Linked DNA regions of Homo sapiens. The protein of the gene in region 4 interacts with the protein of the main gene of each other region in a biochemical or structural test. Each region holds a gene or a part of one and is shown on either strand. Other genes may lie near its edges.

Evidence for each region. The genes of interacting proteins can lie anywhere in the genome.
Region 1: the proteins of KPNA4 (region 4) and CDC45 interact in a biophysical measurement, tested with the Homo sapiens proteins (one large-scale study listed by IntAct).
Region 2: the proteins of KPNA4 (region 4) and MRTFB interact in a test that uses a peptide from one of them, tested with the Homo sapiens proteins (one study listed by BioGRID).
Region 3: the proteins of KPNA4 (region 4) and ZNF532 interact in a test that uses a peptide from one of them, tested with the Homo sapiens proteins (one study listed by BioGRID).

The regions. Positions count from the first base shown.
Region 1 is NC_000022.11:19,486,420-19,489,919, reverse strand, and holds part of CDC45 (cell division control protein 45 homolog), read right to left. Parts: intron 1-3,500. UniProt on the Homo sapiens protein: Required for initiation of chromosomal DNA replication. Core component of CDC45-MCM-GINS (CMG) helicase, the molecular machine that unwinds template DNA during replication, and around which the replisome is built.
Region 2 is NC_000016.10:14,245,819-14,249,318, reverse strand, and holds part of MRTFB (myocardin-related transcription factor B), read right to left. Parts: intron 2,847-3,500; coding exon 1,812-2,846; intron 394-1,811; coding exon 238-393; intron 1-237. UniProt on the Homo sapiens protein: Acts as a transcriptional coactivator of serum response factor (SRF). Required for skeletal myogenic differentiation.
Region 3 is NC_000018.10:58,863,645-58,867,676, reverse strand, and holds the start of ZNF532 (zinc finger protein 532), read right to left. Parts: upstream 2,801-4,032; 5' UTR 2,292-2,800; intron 2,208-2,291; 5' UTR 2,098-2,207; intron 1-2,097. UniProt on the Homo sapiens protein: May be involved in transcriptional regulation.
Region 4 is NC_000003.12:160,527,572-160,531,071, reverse strand, and holds part of KPNA4 (importin subunit alpha-3), read left to right. Parts: intron 1-131; coding exon 132-217; intron 218-3,032; coding exon 3,033-3,119; intron 3,120-3,500. UniProt on the Homo sapiens protein: Functions in nuclear protein import as an adapter protein for nuclear receptor KPNB1. Binds specifically and directly to substrates containing either a simple or bipartite NLS motif.

The sequences.
Region 1 (3,500 bases), on a different chromosome or scaffold from region 4:
AGGAGAAACAAACAAATCTATAATCAGAGTTGGGGTCTTCAATGTCCCTTTCTGAAGAGTTGAAAGTATTACTAGCCAGAAAAGCAGCAAGCAAACAGAACTCAACACCACCACCAACTCTCAGTATGTAAGTGACATTTCTAAAAAACTCTACCCAACAACAGCAGACTATGCATTTTTTTGACTGACTGCAAATGATACTGTATTTTAAATTTTGGTGTCCACGTATTTATGGCTAGCACGCAGAAATAATAAATATTGTTTGTTTTTATGCAGGTATAAATCTAACAAAAACAGAAAATTTATACACTGAAAACTGCACAATGCTGATGGACGAGAAAGGAATGAGCCATTGATACAAGCAAACATGGATGAATCTCCAAGAATTATGCAGAGCGAAAAAAAGCCAATCCCAAAAGGCTACATACTGTATAATTCCATTTCCATTTCCATAATATTGTTGAAATGAAATTACAGAAATGGAGCTCTCTAGTGGTTACCAGGCAGCAGACAAGTGGGTGTGGCTATAAAAGGGCAACAGAGGGATCCTTACAGTGCTGGAAATGTTCTGTATCTTTTTTTTTTTTTTTAAAGCAATACCCATGGGTTATTTTGGCAGTTTCTGAATGCATAAATGGAATAGACATATTCAGTTTCTGGCAGAACTTTCACAGTGATTTCTAACCTTTAGAGTGCCAACTGAAAAATCACATGATTTATAAATTTAGAAAGGAGACTTTCTTTTCTTTAGAGATAGTCTCAGTTGCCCAGGCTGGAATGCAGTTGTGTGCTCACAGCTCACTGCAGCCTCGACTTACTGGGCTCAGGTGATTCTCCCACCTCAGCCTCCCAAGTAGCTGGGACCATAGGTGTGCACCACCACACCTGGCTAATTTTTGTAGTTTTTGTAGAGACAGGGTTTTGCCATGTTGCCCAGGCTGGTCTCCAACTCCTGGGCTCAAGTGATCCGCCTGCCTTAGCCTCCCATCCTGACCGTGATATTATACTACAGGATTTTACCATTGGGGGAAGCTGGGCAAAGTATATAAGTGATCTCTCTATATTACTTCTTACAACTACATGTGAATCTGTAATTATCTCAAAAGAAAAACTTTAATTAAAAAAAAGCCATGGTCCTGGTGAGGAAACTTTTTGCGGGTAATGGAATTGTTCTCTATCATGGTGGGATGGTGGTTGCATCTTTATACATTTGTTAAATCTCATTGAATTGTACCACCTAGTGAATTGTGTAGACATTATGCCTCAATAAAGTAACAAAATTCCCACAGCCTGAGATTTCTTTGACCCTGCCACAATGCATGGTGGGGTCCTGTCCCCTCCCTTGTGGCTACTGGATGCTGAGGTACTCCAAGGCTGGTCGGGAGAGCCATGCAGTGGCTGCCCGGGTGACTGGAATATTCATGCTGGAAGCCTGAGCAGTCATGTTGTAAGGAAGTCACATTCAATGGAGAGACCCTGCAGGTGCTTGGCTCAGTAGTCCTGGTTTGGAGCCCTCCCAGCAGATGTCTGAGCCATGCTTCCAGTTCTTAGCCATTGAGTCCCCACCTGAGGGCCCAGATATCACAGATCAAAAAGATGTCATCCTCACTGGGCTCTGCCCAAATTCCTAACCTACAGAATCCATGAGCATAAGGAAAAGGTTGTTTTAAGCTGCTAGGTTCTGGAGTAATTTGTTAAACATCAGTAGGAACCAAAACAATTAAGTCTAGTTATTCTCCTTATTTTACAATGGCACACAGAGGTTAAGTCACTTGCCTACAGTCACAAAGCTGTTATAGCAGATACAAAATTTGAAACCCGTGACCTGAGCCACGATATTATAGCACCTGTAGATTAAGTATAATTATGGTTATTTTTATAGCGGACTCTCATCTTTGCTGGGGTCCAGCTCTAACATCCAACCTTTAAAAGACAAGTAAAAATGATTCTCGACCCCATGTCTCCTCTTTTCTTTACAGCAGAACTCTTTTTTTTTTTTTTTTTTTTTTGAGACGGAGTCTTGCTCTGTTGCCCAGGCTGGAGTGCAGTGGTGGATCTCAGCTCACTGCAGGCTCTGCTTCCTGGATTCACACCATCCTCCTGCCTCAGCCTTCTGAGTAGCTGGGACTACAGGCTCCTGCCACCATGCCCGGGAAATTTTTTGTATTTTTAGTAGAGATGGGGTTTCACCGTGTTAGCAGGATGGTCTCAATCTCCTGACCTCGTGATCCACCCACCTCGGCCTCCCAAAGTGCTGGGATTACAGGCGTGAGCCACCACGCCCGGCCTATAGCAGAACTCCTTAAAACAATTATTTATAACCTATTGTCTCTAAACCTCTTTGAATGTGCACCCTTATTAATAAAAATATTTCATTCTTTTCTTTTTAAGAGATGAGGTCCTGCTCTGTTGCCCAGGCTGGAGTGCAGTGATGTGATCATGGATCACTGCAGCCTCAACCAACCTCCTGGTCTCAAGGCATCCTCCCACTCTAGCCTCCCAAGTAGCCGGGCCTATGTGACCATGCTACCATGCCTGGCTAATTTTTATTTTATTTTTCTGTAGAGACAGTGTCTTGCTATGTTGTCCAGTCTGGTATAAATATTTCTTTTTTTTTTTTTTTTTTTGAGACAAGAGTATTGCTCTGTCGCCCAGGCTGGAGTGCAGTGGCGTGATCTTGGCCCACTACAACCTCCGCCTCCCAGGTTCAAGCAATTCTCCTGCCTCAGCCTCTCGAGTAGCTGGGATTACCGGCATCTGCCATTGCTCCTGGCTAATTTTTGTATTTAGTAGAGACAGGGTTTCTCCATGTTGGTCAGGCTGGTCTCAAACTCCTGACCTCAGGTGATTCACCCGCCTTGGCCTCCCAAAGTGTTGGGATTACAGGCTTGAGCCACCACACCAGGCTGGTAAAAATATTTCTAAGAATATACCTCTAAAAAGCAGCCGGGCACGGTGGCTCACGCCTGTAATCCCAGCACTTTGGGAGGCCAAGGTGGGAGGATCATGAGGTCAGGAGATCGAGACCATCCTGGCTAACACGGTGAAACCCCGTCTCTACTAAAAATATAAAAAATTAGCTGGGCGTGGTGGCAGGCACCTGTAGTCCCAGCTACTTGGGAGTCTGAGGCAGGAGAATGGCATGAACCCAGGAGCTTGCAGTGAGCCGAGATCGTACCACTGCACTCCAGCCTGGGCGACAGAGCGAGACTCCGTCTCAAAAAAATATATATATACCTCTAATATACACATACTTAGTTATAAATCATGCACAGGTTTTAATTATATAAAAAGTATTCTTCTCAAGAATGCTTAATGTTATTAAAATCAACGCTCTAGACCTAATTTACAGATCATAGAAAATGCAGGGATAGAGAAGCAAGTTAAAGTACTCCATGAAGAAACAAGTAGTAGTAAATATTAGAAAAGAGAACTGGCCTTCAATGTCATTAAAAACAAAAGAAAAAAAAGAGGTAAGGTATGGTTCTAGGTTAAGACAG
Region 2 (3,500 bases), on a different chromosome or scaffold from region 4:
AGGGGTTAACTGCGAAGGCGAGCTATCTTTCAGTAATGAAAAGGTCTTTCTCCATTCCAAATAACTGGGAAATCTGCAGCCAAATGGCATCTGACCTAAGGCTCATTCTATGGGAGATGGATCACAGAAAAGAATGAACAGGAACTTCCCAGGGCGTTTACAAAGATGCTTGTTGAATGGATGATCGGAGGATGGTAAAAATCAGCGACATTCTATTGCTCCTTGGCATTTACAAACCTTTCTGACTTGTTGAGGCTGACTGAGCACATGCTGCGGGAACGTGTCTTGTGTCTGAGGTACAGTTGGGGCCAAGCCTGAGGCCAAGGCAGCAGTTGGTATTTGTGCAGCAGTTGCTATCTGAGGCTGAGTCTGCATTCCTGCTTGTGGTGAAGTCTAGGAGGTGAATTGAAAAAAACATCAATTTAATTGTCAGAATCAAAGTTAGAAATCAGAACTTAGGTGTAGAATCACTGGTCACTTGGGGATTGTATCTAAATGAAATAAGACCAAGGTTACAGATACACACTTCATCTGCACAGAAATCTGAACTTTAATGATTCTAAACCAGAGAGGGAAACATCAGACCAGTCACTGCATGCTCTTATTATTCCTAAGTAGCTAAGATTTTTCATTTGAAAATTTTGAGAAAATGGAAATGGAAATAATAAGAACCTAAGGCAGTTCTACACATAATAGCTCAGGTACTGTAATACTTGAATAACAGCAAGGCAACTCGTGAGACCTAACTGTCCCAATTGCTGCTTGCAAGCGGTGTGTGCATTCCCTAGGGAGAGCCAGCAATGGGGCCAGGGCGCCCTCAGACCCAAGGATAAAAACACGGTTCTCGTTTCTACTACAGCAATGGAAGATTTGGACCAAAAAATTTAAGGATTTATTATGGAATAGACTTTCAATTTCACAGATACCCTAAAGATAAAACAGAGGAATCAGAATTTTTGCATCTGCCAAAGGGTCTGTGGGCCCTGCCTCCTAACCACAGGGGTACGAGATGATTCCTCTCGCCTGTTTCAGGTATTTGGGTGTCGAGGCTGAGGAGCACTGCTTCAAATGGTTTCTTGTTCACTCGTGCTCCATGTTTGGTGAAAACTTACCAAAACTGCATGACACGGTAAATACATAGGTTATGTACGCACAAAAGGGAATTTCATGCTCATCAGTGTTTTCTCATCTCTTTCAATTACATCCTCACTCCTAAATTTGTGGTCATGTTTTCCTTAGTTTAGACATCTTCATATAAGCAGTGACTTTCAAGAACTAAATGTGGGAGGCAGAATATAAGAATGGGCATAAGAATAAAGGCTCTGCGGGCAGAACACCTGGGTTTAAATGCCAGCTCCATCCTTGGGGGAACTCCCTGAGTACTCCTAGGCCTCAGCGTCCTTATCCAGAGATGGGTGGTATCACTTAGATCTTCTAGGAGAAGGGAGGATTAAGTGAAGCCGGCCATTTAAAGTACTAGATGCTGTGCCTTGCCAGAAAGTGCTCAGCGGCAGACTATGATCACAATGATCACGTCACTGGTGTGTAAAAAAATGTCTGCATGGATGATACTGTGTTCATTCAAGGGAAAAGGTAACAGGACTAGAAAAGCATCCTGTGTTTTTTTCACTATATAAAAACAGTGCTAGATATTCAGATTTCTGAATAACCCTCTCACACATGCATACGTTTTCTCCGTGGGGTCTGCTCTGGACGCATTTATGGAAGAGCTCAGGTATGGTGCCTTCCTTAGCAGGGTTTGCATTCCATGCATGCTGTAAGGCAAAGTAGTTAGAAGACACACTTCACACCTGGAGTTTGAGGCTGCCTACAGGGAGTTGCACTGAGGTGACACTCGAGCCCTGGATGGACACTGGGAGCAGCAGCTGAGCAGTCTGCGTGGTCAGTAAAGCCTGGGGCTGAGCAACAACAGCAGGCGGTGGCTGTCCCTGGGAACTCACATAAAACTGCGAGACGACACTCTGCTGCTCTGCCTGGCCCACAGGGACCTCTTGCTTGATAACTACAGCCTTTTTGGCAACAAGGGTCTGGCCACCTGTAGAGACGGGCTGGCCTACAGCGTGGCTGGCTACTGGGATGGGCTGCCTGGAGCTGGAGCAGTCAGGGAGTGAGGCCTCATCTTTGATGGAGGAGCCAAGGCTGCCGTGCTTCTGATCTGACTTGACAGAATGACCTGGGGCACTGGGCTGGGCTTCCAGGGGCCGCTGCTGCTGCCCTCGTTTTTCAACCTCAAGTTGCATTTTCAGCACTTCCACGAGCTTCTGCTCTTGTTCCAGTTTCCTCTTCAGCTCTTCGATTTGCTTCTCTTTCTCCTGAAGCTTGCGATCCTTTTCGGCTGCATCCAGTTCCAGGTTTGACAGAGTGCTGCTGGTGGGACTCAGACTGTCTTCATTATTTGTCATTCTCAAAGGAGATGAACTCAAGAACTGTGAAGGCGACATCATGGTCATAATCTCGGTGAAAGTGTCTGCCATGTTTGTGTCATCAGTACTGAGACTGGACTGTTCGGAGGGAGATGGTGAAATGGGCAGAGGGGAATGAACATTTTCCACACGGGTTGCGTTGCTGGTTCCTGTAGGTGGCAATTCTGCCTTGAGAGTAGAGACTGAGCTAGTCACAGTGTTGTGTAGTGTTGTAACCGGCAAGGCCACAGTGACTTCTGGGTTACTGGTGACAATGGCTGATGATGACACTGCCACGATGCCCCCAGCAGCAAGGCCGCTGCTGTTCACTTCCTGGTAGGGTTTTAGGCGCTCAATGAGGTCCGGTTTGGTGCCTGACACTGGCAGACCCCTTAACTTCAGTTCTGTCTTCAGTTCTGATACCTGGAGGTACAAACAAAGCAGATATCTTAGTATTAGAGCTTTCTGGCAAATCTACAGTACGCTTTTGTGATGGGAAAGGTGCCTATGTCTGTCAGACAACTCTGCGTTACGGCACACCTGAAAGTAGAACTGGTTTTATATTTAAGCACACAGAAACAGATAACTACAGACTAGAAGCACTTGAGGAGCCAGTGATACGGTAAGGGTTTTTAGAGGGTAATTCCGCTTTTACGTCAAAGCAGAGAGATACTACCAGGAATTATGATGATGATACAGCTGCATTTATTGAGTAGTTGCCTTGTGCAAGACACTTTTGGAAATGCTCTACTCTTTCCACTCATCTTCACACGACCCCATGAGGTGTCCGTATCATTATTCTTCCCATTTTACAGATCGGGAGGCAAAGAAGAGAGAGGCTGAAGCACTCACTGAAGGTACCACAGATAATAGAAGGCTGAGCTGTGGTAGAAACCTAAAAAGGCTGGCCCTAGAGCTCATATTCTTAACTGTTACATTTTCCTGCTTTTCCCAAACTTGGCATTGAGCAGGGAAGAAAAAAATCACAGCCTCTGGAATCCAGCAGAACTGGTAGGTGCCTGCACAAGGTACACACTCAGTAAATGACAGTTATTGGTTGTTTTACAAGAAAACTTA
Region 3 (4,032 bases), on a different chromosome or scaffold from region 4:
AGGTCGTCTTTAGAGCCTGCTACAGGCACTGCCGACCAGGGGCTGGGCTCTGGGCTCCACGGTGACAGGAACTGCAGGCACCGGGTCCCCCCTGGCTCTCCCAGGAAGGAACATGCCCTAGCTCATCCTGCACACTCACATCCACATTCCCCAGCCCAGAAGACTCTCCCCACTCCAGGGAGGCCTGGGCCTGCTACATTGTTATACCTCAGCATGAGATCAACACCTGAGACAAGCTCCAATCCAAGATGAGCTCATGACTCCCGCCCCAGAGAACCAGCTCTCCAACCCTCAGCAGCATTTGCAGCTGGAAAGATTGGTCTAAATGCAAAACAAATGCTATCTTCAGGAGACTTCAAGGGGGAGGGAGAGGAACAAAGCTAAAAACCACCAAGACAGAAAACCAGAACATTCCATGACATGCAATGCCCTACGAAGAGGTTTTTTAAAACATATTCGCACTGTATAGCCGTGGCAAGGGGTTAGCTGTCAAAGTTAAACAAAAATCACTGACTCTCAAAAGACAAGAATGAAGGACTAAATAATAAAACAGCTTATTGTATTAAGCTAATTAAGGTTTATCATATTAGCCATCTGAGTTTTAGTTGACATCAGAAACGCAGAAGCAGCACACCACGCGCAGCGTGGATTCGGATCTGCTTTGCAAGCATATTCCTGCCACACTCATACACAGAACCTCTGGCAGTCAGAAATGATGGAGAATTGAAAACCAATTTTAGCACAGTGATTTGTAAAGAATTTTGTTCCATCATGTAAGCTATTTACTGGTATATCCGTCCAAGATTACATTTATCTCTATTAAATACTCCATAAAGTATCCTGAGCTAACCATGCACTCTTGTTTCCCTTTTGCCAGTTTTATCACATAGTGGATGTTCTGTAGCCAAATGAAAAACATTTTAACAATAAAACCCTTGCATACTTGACGTCCTTCACTGCAGATATCCTGCCCACCAACTGCCAGCACACAACTTAACCAATTCCAAGATCCTCGGCACTGCTGAAAAGCCCCTATTCTGCTGAACACGGAGAGGAACAAAATGCCCACTTCGAAGTAGGGGAAAATTTTATTTTCAGTCATGTCTTCTATGGGCTCCTCTTGACTGTACTTTTACCAAAAACCAGCAGAAAGGCAGGACCAGTTCTATCTGTTGTTGAGATCACACTGGATCCCATTCTGGAGCTGCTGGTTTCCTGTTTGGGGAAGTTGCAGTTCTTTTCACAAGGAACCCAAGGCAAAATGTTGAGTGTTCTCCTGCAAGCCCCCTCAGCCTTTGTTCTTCACTTTGCTACTCTCCTCACTCCTTCCTTCTCTCCTCTCCTCTCCAACCTCTGGTTTTGGAAGGTGCATTAAAATGCCTGCTCAAACCTAACTGCGATCTTTAAAGGCATCAGACATTTTCTACCACCCATTCCAGTACAGCTTTGAGTTAACAGGCATCTTTTCACAGATGAAGCCAGACTACCCGGCTTCCCCCTGGTATTGCATTAGTATTCCACATTAAACATATGCCACAAAGAATCCAATGGCGAACTCACCGTCAACAGCCCCCAAAATCAATAAAAGACATTCCACCACTTGAGTCGGAGTGAAAAACCTTTCAGGTTAACACAAGAGAGCAAGGTAAAAGAAAGGTGATGAATGAACAAAAGGCAAATCTACCTTCAGACTCCTCAAATCCTAAAAAGGTGGCTAGGCTGCCTCGATTTGGTGAAGCCCTTCCTTTTCTTATAATCATCGGGAAAATGCCACATGTGTACTGCTTTCGTCTTATGCAAAACAGCACATTCTCCACAAGGCCCTGACGCCTACCATTCTCCACACTCGCTTCCTTCCAGGCCTGACTCTCCCAATTGCCCAGACACATGCGATTTAATGAAGGCATTCAGATTTCGCCTTGATCGCAATACCATCATAAAGTCACTCTAATCCCATTAAACTGGGATAACATTAAGAGCATTTCTTCTCCACTCTGAACCCAATTTTATCTCCTGGGTAGCAATCCACGGTCCGTCTGTGTCTAAATGGATCTGCAAATAAATATTTAAATTCATGCTCAAAACAGCGTATCTCACCTTGTGAACCTTGACCTTTTGGAAAGACTTTAGACCAATGTTCAGTTACTGTCACACGGCTGCATTCTCAGCAAATAGGAAAGGGTTAAAAGCAGCCCCAGTCAACAGGCCTACAAGGAAAAAAAAGACAGCATGTATGGCTAACAGCATCACTGGAATGCATTTATGTTCATTTCCTAGAACGATATTGTTACCTTTTGGCCTTCATAATAGTCAGAAGCATCCCCAACACCCTTTAGTAGCTTCTAAAAGAAAAAGCACAAGACAGAACATACCCTGCAAGAGAAAAAAAGCATGCAAAGTAGCATTCTCCAGCAACAAACAAACTACCATTACAAACCCCTCAGTTCATTTTGGTTTTGTTTTGTTATAAACACCGAGAAAGAGAGAGAGAGACTGCATCAACCAAGTGTCCCCACCCTAGCAAGGCACATTTTTTTCTCTAATAAGGGTCATAAATCTCAGCTCCTTGTCCATCCCTTAAGCAAAAGAAAAAGGCAGGAAAAGCCCAAGTAATCTCAGACCCTGCAAACCTGCACCTTTTTTTCCATCTTCTCTACCCAGAATCTTTTAGGGCTCCATTAGTCACGTACCAGTGCTGTGTGGTGTCTAAGTGTGCATTCACATACTGTGTAGGGATGGTACCTTCCTGCAAGCTCCTCTGCTTTTGGCTGCCATGAAGGGAGGAAGCTGCTATCCTACTGTAGTAGCTCAGTGACTGCATTGTGTTCAGGAGCTGATCTGCCTCAAACCAGTTTCAGCCGGTTCTGGTCACCCTACATAAAAAAGCTATGGCAACCCTCGCTGAGTTGCCAACAAGTCCCTGAAAATCATCAGCACAGGGGGGATCTCGCTGGGGTTTGCTCTTCCCTCTTAGGTCTTCCTGAGGAGGAGAAGGTCATCGTGTGTCCCCCCACCCCACGAGCACACAGCCTTGGAAATGCTCACCTCGCAAGCACCCCAGAGCCCCTCAGGGCCCATCCCCCCTCCCCTCCACCCCACAGCCCACCGCAGACACTGTTTCCCCCTCCTTCTCCTTCCCCCACTTACCTCCCACAACCTGGCTCAGATCTTTGTGTACGTGTGTGTCAGTGTGTGCTCTCTGTGTTGGTGGCTGACAAAGAGCCCCCAAGAAAGCGAGCTATGTGTGTCTGCTCACACGGGATGCGTCGGCTGCAGAGCCGGCCTGGCCTCCTAGCACAGTGGTGCTGGCTTGTTGACCAGGCTCCTCTCTGCTGTCACCCCCACCCCACCCAGCCCCCTCCTCCCTTCCGTCCCTCTCCTCTCTCTCCCAGCCCTGTCACCACCACCAGCAGCCCCCCAGTCTCCTCCTCCTCCTCCAACCTTCTCTTCTTTCAAGCACCTGGGGGGAGAAGTCCAAATCCCTTCACCTCGGGGGAAGAAAACTGGGGCTGTCTGGGGAGGGGGCGGGGGGCGAAGGCAGGGCCAGTGGGAGAGGGGGCACGGAGGCCTCTGGAAACGCATCTGTGCCCGGCCGGCGCCGGCGGGGGGAGTAGGAGAGCCGCGCTCACGTGGCCCCCGTCTCGTAACCTGCGGGGCCTAGCCCGGGCGGTTCCTCCTCGGCCCCCCAAGCCAGCTGGCGGGGCGCGAAGGCCGGCTGTCCCCAAGGCCAGGGTGGGACAGGCCACTGCGGGCAGGCCCAGGGGCCTGAGCCTCACGCGCTCACCCCGGCCCGCAGGAGTGGGCACGAGGGGCCGCACCCCGCCTCTGCCCGGCGCCCACCCGCGCCCCTGGGTCCGGCTGCCCTGCGCCCCTCGTTCGCCCCGGCCGCCTCCCGCCGCCCCGCACCCCCAGAGGCGCACACCCACCCCCTTCCCGGGGTTGGCCTTCGCGGCGGTCAAGCCCGGGCGTCTGGGCCGCAGCTCGGATGACCTTTGTTCAGCGCGGCGCCGCCGGCGGCTGCTGCTGTGGCTG
Region 4 (3,500 bases):
TATGCTGGATGGATAGATAACTTTTGAAACAAAATATTTAATGCATTTTAAATGGTAGAAGGAAGAATGGTTAGATATTTGGCCCAATGTAAAAATCCCTGCTGTTTAAAAATACTTGTTTTTTTTTGTAGTCCTTCTTTACAGTTTGAAGCTGCATGGGCTTTGACAAACATTGCATCTGGAACTTCTGAACAAACTCAAGCAGTAGTTCAGTCCAGTAAGTTGGTTATTAATAAACATAATTGTGATTTTTTTTAAAAGAAGTCGGTAAAAAATAGTGATCTTCCCAAAAGACTATGGCAATTTAAATTATAAAATAATAGCTACTACGTAGTTATTGAAATAGGTCAACTTAAGTATGTTACTTTAATCTTCTTATTCTGGTGACTGATGTTTTTTGTATTTCCAAAAATTCACTTGATTCCTTTCTAAATATGAGAACATTTCCTAATTATAGTAGCAGATTACATTATTATTGTTACACTTTATTTATAGGACATCAGTAGAAATAAAGGAGTTTTTCCTGTTGCCACATTGCCTCTCAGCCTCTCTTTTTTTGTTTTTGTTTTTTTGTTGTTGTTGTTTTTCTTTCTCAGACAAGATCTTACTCTTTTGGCCAGGCTGGAATACAATGGCACAATCTCAGCTCACTGTAGCCTCGGCCTCCCAGGCTCAAGAGACCCTTCCGCATCAGTCCACCAAGTAGCTGGGACTACAGGCATGTGCCACTGTGCCTAGCTAATTTTTGTAATATTTTTGTGTTTTTTGTAGAGACAGGGTTTCACCATGTTGCCCAGGCTGGTCTCTAACTCTGGGCTCAAGTGATCAACCTGCTTTGGCCTCCCAGTGTGCTGGGATTATAGGCATGAGCCACCACACCGGGCCTCAGCCTCTCTTAATGAGATTTTTCTCTTTTTTTTTTTTTTTTTTTTTTTTTGAGATGGAGTCTCACTCTGTCGCCCAGGCTGGAGTGCAGTGATGCGATCTCGGCTCACTGCAAGCTCCACCTCCCGGGTTCATGCCATTCTCCTGCTTCCGTCTCCCAAGTACCTGGGGCTACAGGCGCCCACCACCACGCCCGGCTAGTTTTTTGTATTTTTAGTAGAGACGGGGTTTCACTGTGTTAGCCAGGATGGTCTCGGTCTCGATCTCCTGACCTCATGATCCGCCTGCCTCGGCCTCCCAAAGTGCTGGGATTACAGGTGTGAGCCACCACGCCCGGCCATATCATATATTTTAAAGAAATCTTCTATAAAGTAGTCCTAGTTGAAAGAATGGCTCGAATTTTTTTTTCATTGTTATTATAATAGGATTGCTTTTTTTTGTTTCAAGAAATGTAAGTGGAAAATTATTGGAAGTAAGAACCCGAGTGTATTGTCTTCATGAATAGTATTTGATTGTTCTACCAAACAAAGAAATTAATAATTTTAAAGAAGATACTTTTAAAATCCTCTTTAAATATGTAAGCAGCATACTTCTCTGAGCTTATTAAAAATGTAAGCACTAATTTGTACATTTTGAAGGGGAACAAAGATGTTATCCAAATAATCATTTTACTGTAGACACTTATGTTGTAATATTACTTAGAAAAGATAATTACCTCACATCCTATTAAAACTGGTTTGGTTTTGGGTTCAGGTGGTTTTTATTGTGGTTTTTTGGTTTTGTATAGCTGACTCTTAGGAAAATTTTTGGTTTCATAACAATGTTTTATTCCCTCTCACACTTTTTCCTTTCTGTTATGTATGCTCTCTAAAGATTAGAAAGAGGCTTAGAATTTTTTTGACCCTGCTAGTCTGCTTTAATATACCAAAAATAATAAATAAATAAATAAATGAGGTTGGGCATGGTGGCTCATGCCAGTAATTCTAGCACTTAGGGAGGCTGAGGCAGGCAGATTACTGGAGTCCAGGAGCTAGAGACCAGCCTGGGCAACATGGTAAAACCCCATCTCTACAAAATGCAGGAAAAAAAAATTAGCCGGGCTTGGTGGCATGCACCTATAGTCCCAACAACCCAGGAGGCTGAGGTAGGAGGATCACTTAAGCCAGGGGAGGTCAAGGCTGCAGTGACCTGTGGTGACACCACTGAACTCCAGTCTGGGCAGCAGAGTAAGGCACTATCTCAAAAACAAACCCATAAGTGAATTACCTTTTATGATATTACAAGCATGATTGAGCTACATATACTTAAATAGTGCTTTTTAAAGTAATATCAGAAGGAAAGAAGAAGAATCATTTGTTCAGTGCAGTATTTTGTTCAGATACAGACCTATCTCTGTTTCCCATCCTGTTGAGTAACAGAATCACTTTCTGATTCGGAAGATCCCACATGGCCCAGGAATCACTGGCCTGTCTTAAAGACCCACATGTTGTTAACATAAATTTGTGTTCAAAAGTTACTTCAGGCCGGGTGCAGTGGCTCATGCCTGTAATCCCAGCACTTTGGGAGGCCAAGGCAGGCAGATCACTTGAGGTCATGAGTTTGAGACCAGCCTGGCCAATACGGTGAAACCCTGTCGCTACTAAAAATACAAAAATTAGCCAGGCATGGTGGCTCACACCTGCAGTCCTAGCTACTTGGGAGGGTGAGGCAGGAGAATCACTGAAGCTTGGGAGGCAGAGGTTGCAGTGAGCCAAGATTCCACCGCTTCCCTCCAGCCTGGATGACAGAGTGAGACTCCGTCTCAAAAAAACAAAAAAAAAGTTACTTCAATAATGTACTTTTTTTTTTCAAACTACAGATAATCTATAAGGAATTAATCTTGAAATTAATTCCAGGTTTAATTGTTAATGAAATTTCACAAGCCTAATTTAACACTTGTCTGGATAACTCATTTTGATACTGAGTAAATAGTCACTGGTCAAAATTCTTCCAATGATGCTATTCCAATAAAATTCATTTAATGAGGTTATATTTTAAGTATATTTTTATAGGTTCCCTTTTTTTTGAGGTCTCAGCAAAAAAATAAAGATTGATTTTTGGTTTATGGTATCTTCAACCTTAAGTATTGTTATTTTTTCTTCCATCAGATGCTGTGCCACTTTTCCTGAGGCTTCTCCATTCACCCCATCAGAATGTCTGTGAGCAAGCAGTGTGGGCATTGGGAAATATCATAGGTTTGTATAAAACTTGTAATACTAGTCTAAAAATTGTTATCATATACTAAGTAATAAAAATAGCTACTAGTAATCCAAAAGAGAAAACAGTTTGCCTTCAGTACTAGTTTTTGTGAAATAGCTTACAGAAATTTGAACTGTATTACTGTAAAAGCATAAAGTCATAGTAAATAGAATTTTTGTTGCTTAAGATACCATTTTTTTGGTATATAGTTAGCTCTTAATTATTTGAATAATTATGCAAGATGTATACAATTTAGACCTTCTGTCTCATGCTAGGATCCATTTTTTCTTCCCCTAACCCCCATGTTGATCAGTGGGGTCCCTTTTTATTTCTCAGCTTTCTCCATCAAAGAAAGTAACAAGAAAAAAGACAAAACT